Linked DNA regions of Homo sapiens: region 2 is linked to region 1. The links come from fine-mapping of genetic effects on gene expression. Tissue or cell type: adrenal gland. Region 1 holds a variant in brackets; the other region holds the start of a gene. All regions are shown on one strand. Distances are from middle to middle.

What was found. PIP is the estimated chance that this variant, and not a neighbour inherited with it, causes the effect. A credible set is the group of variants that fine-mapping cannot tell apart.
Region 2: NME5 starts here. The variant in region 1 is the best candidate, but not a certain one, in a credible set for the expression of NME5 in adrenal gland (GTEx, PIP 0.68).

The regions. Positions count from the first base shown.
Region 1 is chr5:138,380,107-138,384,504 of GRCh38, reverse strand. KDM3B (lysine demethylase 3B) reads right to left here. Exons shown (of 24, transcript NM_016604.4): 6 at 2,915-2,989. Among named protein-coding and RNA genes, the nearest start is that of KDM3B, 30 kb to the right of the region's middle. The variant G/A (reference allele first, on the strand shown) is at 2,292.
Region 2 is chr5:138,137,182-138,141,579 of GRCh38, reverse strand. NME5 (NME/NM23 family member 5) reads left to right here and starts at 2,152. Exons shown (of 6, transcript NM_003551.3): 1 at 2,152-2,209; 2 at 2,795-2,928. The coding sequence starts at 2,800. BRD8 (bromodomain containing 8) reads left to right here. Exons shown (of 27, transcript NM_139199.2): 26 at 698-875; 27 at 1,414-1,810. The coding sequence ends at 1,506.

The DNA.
Region 1 (4,398 bases):
CAGCCTCCCAAAGTGCTGGAATTACAAGTGTGAGCCACTGCACCTGGCCTAATTTTTGTATTTTTTTAGTAGAGATGAGGTTTCGCCATGTTGGCCAGGCTGGTCTCGAACTCCGGACCTCAGGTGATCTGCCCACCTCGGCCTCCCAAAGTGCTGGGATTACAGGTATGAGCCACCACGCCCAGCCTCTAAACCTTTCATTCAAGAACTTTATCTGTTTGCTAAGTGTTGTTTTCTTTTGACTTTTTTTTTTTTTTTTAAGTCGGAGTCTTGCTCTGTCACCCAGGCTGGAGTGCAGTGGCACGATCTCGGCTCACTGCAAGCTCCACCTCCCAGGTTCACGCCATTCTCCTACCTCAGCCTCCAGAGTAGCTGGGACTACAGGTGCCCGCCACCGCGCCCGGCTAATTTTTTTTGTATTTTTAGTAGAGATGGGGCTTCACCATGGTCTCGATCTCCTGACCTCGTGATCCAGCCGCCTCGGCCTCCCAAAGTGTTGGGATTACAGGCGTGAGCCACCGCGCCTGGCCTTGATTTTTTTCTTCTTTTTTTTTGAGACGGAGTTTTGCTCTTGCCACCCAGGCTGGAGTGCAATAGCACAATCTCAGCTCACTGCAACCTCCGCCTCCTGTGTTCAAGCGATTTTCTTGCCTCAGCCTCCCAAGTAGCTGGGATTACAGGTGCCCGCCACTACGCCCAGCTAATTTTTGTGTTTTTTAGTAGAGACAGGGTTTCATCATGTTGGCCAGGCTGTTCTCAAACTCTGACCTCAGGTGATCCACCTGCCTCGGCCTCTTTTGATTTTTAAAAGCTTTTAAATTCTTTCTCAATCTCTATCACCACCCAGTTTTCACTGTTGCAGATCACAATCAGTGAACTCTGTTCTTTCTTGTTCATTCACCCATACTTAAAGGAGATGAGGTGATCATGGATCTCTAAAAAGGGTTACTATAAAACTTGGCAGAACTATAAAAAATAATTGGACTCTGCTAGCAAAGAAAACAGTAATATCATGTTAATACCAAAAAAGGAAGACCCAACATCTGCTGCTAAAAACCAAAGATCACCAGGCGTGGTGGTTCGTTCGCGCCTGTAAACCCAGAACTTTGGGAGGCCAAGGTGGGCGGATCACGAGGTCAGGAGTTTGACACCAGCCTGGTCAATATGGTGAAACCCTGTCTCTACTAAAAATACAAAAATTAGCTGGGCATGGTGGTGTGCGCCTGTAGTCCCAGCTACTCAGGAGGCTGAGACAGAAGAATCACTTGAACCCGGGAGGCGGAGGTTGCAGTGAGCCAAGATCACCCCACTGCACTCCAGCATGGGTGACAGAGCAAGACTCCATCTCAAAAAAAAAAAGAAAAAAACAAAAACAAACATCCCACCTATAAGTCATCCAGCCAACTTGCAGAGCCTGGCTCACAGCAACATACTACCAGTCCCTAAACAACTTATATGTAAGTCCTACTTACAGTGAGCTACTCATACGTGAGTAAGCAGCCTACAACATTGAGACCAGTACTCCCCAGTTCTATTTGGCCAGCTGAACAGTACCTGGCATACAATATATGCTTAATGAAGGAATGAAATAAGGAAAGGAACAAAAAAGGGGACCAATACACGATCAAAGTAGCAGGTGTTTTTGGCATGCAAACACAGTCAAGAGACTTACCCTGTTTGTGGTAATATTACATGTAGTAAACAGTTCTTAAATTTAACCCTGGCCAGGTGCAGTGGCTCATGCCTGTCATCCCAGCACTTTGGGAGGCTTAGGTGAGAGTTTGAGACCAGACTGGGCAAGATAGCGAGACCCTGCCTCAAAAAAAAAAAATTTTTTTTCTTTTCCTATTCTGATCTTGTTTTAGGAAGTCAAGAATGACTGGATAAAGATGAGGAAAGACTATATACTTAGCAGGAGTGGCAACGACAGCAATATTACAGAGGTGCCAAGATACTGTGAGGAATATGTGGACAGCTGGTCAACTGAAGGAAATTCACACAGAATTACTCGATTGGTTCAGGCAGAGATTTTTATTTATTTACTTTTTTTTTTGAGACGGAGTCTTGCTCTATCACCCAGGCTGGAGTGCAATGGTGCGATCTCAGCTCATTGCAACCTCCACGTCCCAGGTTCTAGCGATTCTCCCACCTCGGCCTCCCGAGTAGCTGGGATTACAGGCACCCACCATCAGGCCTGGCTATTTTTTTTTTTGTATTTTTGTAGAGACAGCGTTTCACCACGTTGGTCAGGCTGGTCTTGAATTCCTGACCTCAGGTGATCCGCCTGCCTC[G/A]GCCTCCCAAAGTGCTGGGATTACAGGCGTGAGCCACTGCACCTGGCCCAGAGAGCTTTAATGTATCTTTTTTGGGGCTATATTAATTCTGAATAAACCAAGAGTTGGGCTGGTTCATAACAATTATGGAGTAACCAATGCACTGGGGGCTGAGCACTGAACTAGGTACCAGCTTGAATTGATTCTACTTGGGAATACAGAATTTCAGACTCCGTTGGAGCTCACTGCCACCGAATGGAAAAAAAAAAAAAGTGGACGTAGTTTATCCTTCACTTCTTGTTACTTGGTAGATCACGAGTATTACTACTGCTTATTGCACTTTTAACTGACTACTATATCTTTCAAATATACCTGTCCTGACAGAATATAGGAAGAAACCAGCCTTGCACTTTAGAAGAACTAGGGAACATAGTCATGCTTAAAAGGGTTTGCTCAAACTAGGTCTCTTTCTTGAGAATATCCCCCCTTAATTAGACAGACTGTGGAGAGAGCAAAAAAATGTACAGTGGCTAAAGCTGAACAACTCAAAAGGCATCCATGGAAAACACATATATAAGGGATCTACACACAGCAAGATAATGCAAGCTCATGAGTCTGCTCAGGAATGCAGTCCATTACTGTACCTCGCTTTGAGGCGCTGAATTATCCATCAGCATCACATGGATTAGTCTGGGATCTACCGACTTGATCTCACCACTCTACAGTAGGAGGGGAAAAAGATATTTAATGCCTTGTCCATAAAGACATAATTATATAATTTCCTAATCAATGTAATTATCTCTTTATTGATTCAACTCACCTACTAGAATGAAAGCTCCATGAGAGCAGAGATCTCTACTGTCTCATTTACTGCTACAACAGGTCTAGAATATGGTAAGCATTCAAATATTTAAGTGAATGAATGAAAGAAGTGAATTCATGTCCAACTGTGTCTTTTAGCGATGTTAATTCTGAATCCTGTATCTCTAAAACTGTCCTATTCTGTATAGTATGAAACAAAAAACCTTCAGAACCAATAATCATTAAAAGAATCACTCTAGGGCTGGGTGCGGTGGTTCACATCTGTAATCTCAGCATTTTGGGAGGCCAAGGTGGGTGGATCACCTGAGGTCAGCAGTTCAAGACCAGCCTGGCCAACATGGTGAAACCCTGTTTCTACTAAAAATACAAAAAATTAGCTGGGTGTGGTGGCGTGTCTGTAATCTCAGCGAATCAGGAGGCTGAGGCAGGAGAATTGCTTGAACCTGGGAGGCGGAGGTTGCAGTGAGCCGAGATCGTGCCATTGCACTCCAGCTTGGGCAACAAAAGCAAATCTCTGTCTCAAAAAGAAAAAAAAAAAAAAATCACTCCAGGCTGGGCATGGTGGATCATGCCTGTAACCCCAGCACTTTGGGAGGCTGAGGCAGGAGGACCAGGAGTTCGAGACCAGCCTGGGCAACACAGTGAGACTCTGTTTAAAAAAGAATCATTCTACTATTAAAGAATAAAAACTCAGTGGGGGGCAATTTGATAGAAAATTTCAAATTTATTGTGCATATTCTTTGACCTAGCAATTATACATATAAATTTATTCCAATAAATAATGTAAAAAATGTTCAAGGATGTTCACTGTGACATATTAGTGAAAATATTGGCAATGATTTAAATGTCTATCAATTTTAGATTAGTCATGATATATCCATGTAGTGGAAAAGAACGCATCTATTTTAAAGGATGAGACAGATCTTTACATTTACATACAAAAATGCTCACTATATACAATTAAGTAAAAAAGGTAAATTATATAACTATATGTACTATATGATCTTATTTGTTACTAAAGTGTGACTTATATAATTATAGAGCATATAAATTATATATATCATATAAATTATATATCATATAACTCATATATATCATATAAATAAATATAATATAATAATATTCTGGCCGGGTGCAGTGGTTCATGCCTGTAATCCCAACACTTTGGGAGGCTGAGGTGGGCGGATCACTTGAGCTCAGGAGTTTGAGACCAGCCAGGCAACATAGCAAGACTCCTTCTCTACAAAAAATAGAAAAATTAGCTAGGTGTGGTGGCACACGCCTGTAGTGCCAGCTACTCCAGAGG
Region 2 (4,398 bases), 240 kb after region 1:
CACTCCTCCTCTGATAGTAGAATATAGTGGCTTGACCTGTGGGCTCTGGAGTCAGGCTGCCTCTGAATTGGAATTCAGGCTGTGTGCCTTTCAGTGAGTACTTAACCTCTTTAGATTTCAATTTCTTCATCTGTGAAATGGAGATAATAAGGCCGGGGGCGGTGGCTCACACTTGTAATCCCAGTACTTTGGGAGGCCAAGGAAGGTGGATCCCCTGAGGCTAGGAGTTCGAGACTAGCCTGACCAACATGGTGAAACCCTATCTCTACTAAAAATACAAAAATTAGCTGGGCATGATGGCGCACGCCTGTAATCCCAGCTATTCTGGAGGCTGAGACAGGGGAATTGCTTGAACCTGGAAGGTGGAAGTTGCAGTGAGCTGAGATTGCTCCATTGCACTCCGGCCTGGGCAACAAGAGTGAAACTCCGACTCAAAAAAAAAAAAAATGAGATATTAATGATACCTACCTTACAGGTTTATTGAGAGGATTAAGTGAGTTAGTATAGAAATACAGTGTTTGGCCCATTGTAAACAGGCAAATATTAACTGCTGTTGCTATTTTATTATCTGATGAGGGTTGTTATCTTTGCTACTGTTTTCATTAAGAACTGGTTAGTTCTTCAAGAGAACGTGTTAGGTTATCATATGTTCCACATGAAGGTTTGATTTTCTTTGTTTTTTCTTGGCCACCTGCAGACCCATGGACTTAACTAGCCTGAAGAGAAATCTCTCTAAGGGTCGGATTCGCACCATGGCCCAATTCCTGCGAGACCTGATGCTGATGTTCCAAAATGCTGTAATGTACAATGACTCTGATCATCATGTATACCATATGGCTGTGGAGATGCGGCAAGAAGTCCTGGAGCAGATTCAGGTACTGTATGCAGATACCTGTAGCCTCTGGAATCTTGATTTCAGAACGCCTATGAGAATAAAGGTGATTTCGAGGTGACTGTGTTCTCAGAGTTTATTTTTAAAGGTGATTAAGGCCCTGAAGGATTGATAATGTGCCTGCTGGTTTGGAAAACCCTGAGCCTCAGTAAGTCCAGCTCTGATAGTGAAGTAGTCTAGGAATGCAGGCAGCAGTGAAGAGCTCTCAAGAGAGCTGAGGATAGACAAGTAATGGGAATTCCCGCTTCCAGAGCCTCAAGTCAAGGGCTAAACTCCAAAGAGGCTGGAGTCACTGTGTATTTTTTGGTTGCTTCATCTGTTGTTATTAATGTACGTTCACACTTTCCCATCTTTAGGGGATAAGATATAGTAGCTAGAAGACATTTGTGGGTTTCTTTTCTGGGTAGCATCATACTTTAAAGAAAAAAGTATAGTTGAGTCTATTTGCCAAAAAAATAAACTTGCAATACTTTAGTGTTTAAGGTTCATAATAGCTTGCTATGTGTTCCTTAACCCTTTAGGTACTGAATATCTGGTTAGACAAAAGAAAAGGCTCAAGTAGTCTGGAAGGAGAACCAGCTAACCCAGTGGATGATGGAAAACCTGTTTTCTAACCTGGAGCTGCTATCCTGACTTTTTCTAGAGTTTGAATCTCTCCCGGAACTCTGACCTAGAGAGGATCCTGGTACTTCTTTGCCATGTCCTCATTTTCTTTTCCAACAAGAATAATACCTTAACTCACAACCAACGAGTCAAAGATGCATGTGGACATAATATAAAGAAAAAAAGGGGAAGCTGAGGTTTGGATTTATGCCATAAATGTTGCCCACATCTTTGTTCCATCGGCTTGATTTAAAGACAATTCCATTAGATCTTTTCTAAGCCTTTTACTCTATAAATAAATGTATTTACACAATAGGAATATTGCTTTTTAATGACTAGATAAGCTGGGCATAGAGGGCACAGCATCATCTGGTGAAACGAAGGTATCTGACACGGGTCATTTACATATACCGCCTGGAAAGGAATGGTTGGGGGAGGGGTTCTTATCATTTATAGAGTAGGGATAATTGAAGCATCCTTCAAACGGGAAGAAGGATGAAATAAGATAAATTATGAGTAAAATGTCAGAAAACATCTAGTGCTCTAAGATTCACAAGGAGAATAAAAGTGACTGGCTGGCTCCCTTTGGTTAAAACGAACTGGCCAGAAGCTGCAAGGTTCCTTGCTGGGATTGGCTCTCTGCAGCCACCGTCCCCACGCTGGGGCTTCAGGTCTCCTAGCAACAAGTTGTACCATATGAGGACGGCCGCTGAGGTGAGTACTTAGAGAGGGTCAAATTCAGAATTTGCAGGTGCAACCCGGAAAGTCCCCGCGGACCTAGAGGCCCTGCTTTTCAATTAGCCTGACCCTATGCACAGAGAGGTCCCTGCGGGACAGGGTCGCTTCACAGAGGCAGCTGGCCGAGGCCGCTCACCCGCCGCTGTAATGGTGTGTGGTTGCCCACCAGCCACCGTCCCCTCGAGCCCCCACCACCCGCTCTACCGCCCCCTCGAGCCCCCACCACCCGCCCCACCGCCCTCTGCTGCCTGGGGCTGTTGCTGGTTCCAGGCCTTCGGGTCGCCCCTTGGCCTCTGGTTATGTGAGCCCATAGTCCTTCCTGCCTTGGTGACATCGTATACGAAAAGCCGGGGCTCGATTTGGACATAGTAGGAATCCTATTATTGAGACCCTGTATATAGAAAAACATGGCAGTTTCTACCTTCATCAGTTAATAAAATCAAGTACCTACTATTGCTATTCTTAATCATAATTACATTGAATTTGCGATGGGGGTGGGGGGAAATGCATGTCATTGCAGTTGATACCTGTTAAGAAACTCTTAATTTGTGCCCTGAAAAGCCATAATGGAGATATCAATGCCTCCACCTCAGATATATGTAGAAAAAACTCTGGCCATTATCAAACCAGATATTGTTGACAAAGAGGAGGAGATACAAGATATTATTCTTAGATCCGGATTCACCATTGTTCAGGTAACTTCTGGGTATGATGATTCATGCTTTTTTCCTCTCTGCCCTTAAAAAAAAAATGCTTATGTAAATGTGCCTACCCATTTAAACCCTTAGTGTTCAGCATTAAATTTAAGTTTATTCTTCTAAGTATAAAAGTTATATGTGATAGTTTTTAAAAGGATGTAAAATGAGAAATAAAATGGACTTTTCCTTCACCTGTCCTCTTTTACCCCAAGTCCCAGGCTCCAGAGAGAGGCAACCACTTAACACTTTCTGTTCTTCCAGGAGTTTTCTATGCATTTATAAACATTTTCCCCCCATAAAACAGAACAGTCCCTTTCCCTTGACCCCTTTACAGAGTCCCTCAGATAGGATTCCAGATCATTGCATCTGAATTGATCTCACTCTTCCTAATTTCTGTGTAATATTTCCCTGTGTATTAGAACTACAATTTATTTACTTGATCTTCTATTGATGGAATTTTAGGCTATTGGTACTTTTTTCAGTTATGGCATAACATTTAATGTTTTAAGCCTTATGTTCTGCAATTAGTAAACATTGTCATTCTAGGGGTTTGAAAGTGAATATAAATAGCATTGTTAAGGATAAATCAAATAGAATTGAATATTTTTAATCTTCCTCTTTTATAGTTTTTTTTTCTTTTTTTTGAGACAGAGTCTCCCTCTGTAGCCCAGACTGGAGTGCAGTGGTACGATCTCGGCTCACTGCAACCTCTGCCTTCCAGGTCCCGGTTCAAGCAATTCTCCTGCCTCAGCCTCCTGAGTAGCTGGGATTACAGGCATGCACCACCATGTCCAGCTAATGTTTGTATTTTTAGTAGAGACGGGGTTTTACCATGTTGGCCAGGGTGGTCTTGAACTCCTGACCTCGTGATCCACCCGCCTCGGCCTCCCAAAGTGCTGGGATTACAGGTGTGAGCCACTGCACCCCGCCTCTTTTACAGTATTCTCATTCGAACTTCCAATTTTTTATTTTCTCCCATTTATACAGTGTCATATTGCTTATTCAGTCAGTATTTTTAAAAATAAAGAGAAAATGGCGGGTACGGTGGCTCACGCCTGTAATCCCAGCACTTTGGGAGGCCGAGATGGGTGGATCATAAGGTCAGGAGTTTGAGACCAGCCTGGCCAATGTGGTGAAACCCCATCTCTATGAAAAATACAAAAATTAGCTGGGCGTGGTGGCGTGCACCTGTAGTCCCAGCTACTTGGGAAGCTGAGGCAGGAGAATCGCTTGAACTCAGGAGGCAGAGGTTGCAGTAAGCCAAGACTACGCCATTGTACTCCAGCCTGGGCAATAGAGGGAGATCTGTCTCAAAAAATAAATAAATAAATAAAGAGAAAATATCAATCTTCAGAAAAGATACGGAATTTCAGTTGAGCTTCAAAGGACAGGTGGAGTCCGAGAGTAGGGATGGCACAAGAAAGTGTTAGGAAGTATTTAATATGATTAAAGACTCAGGTAAATAAC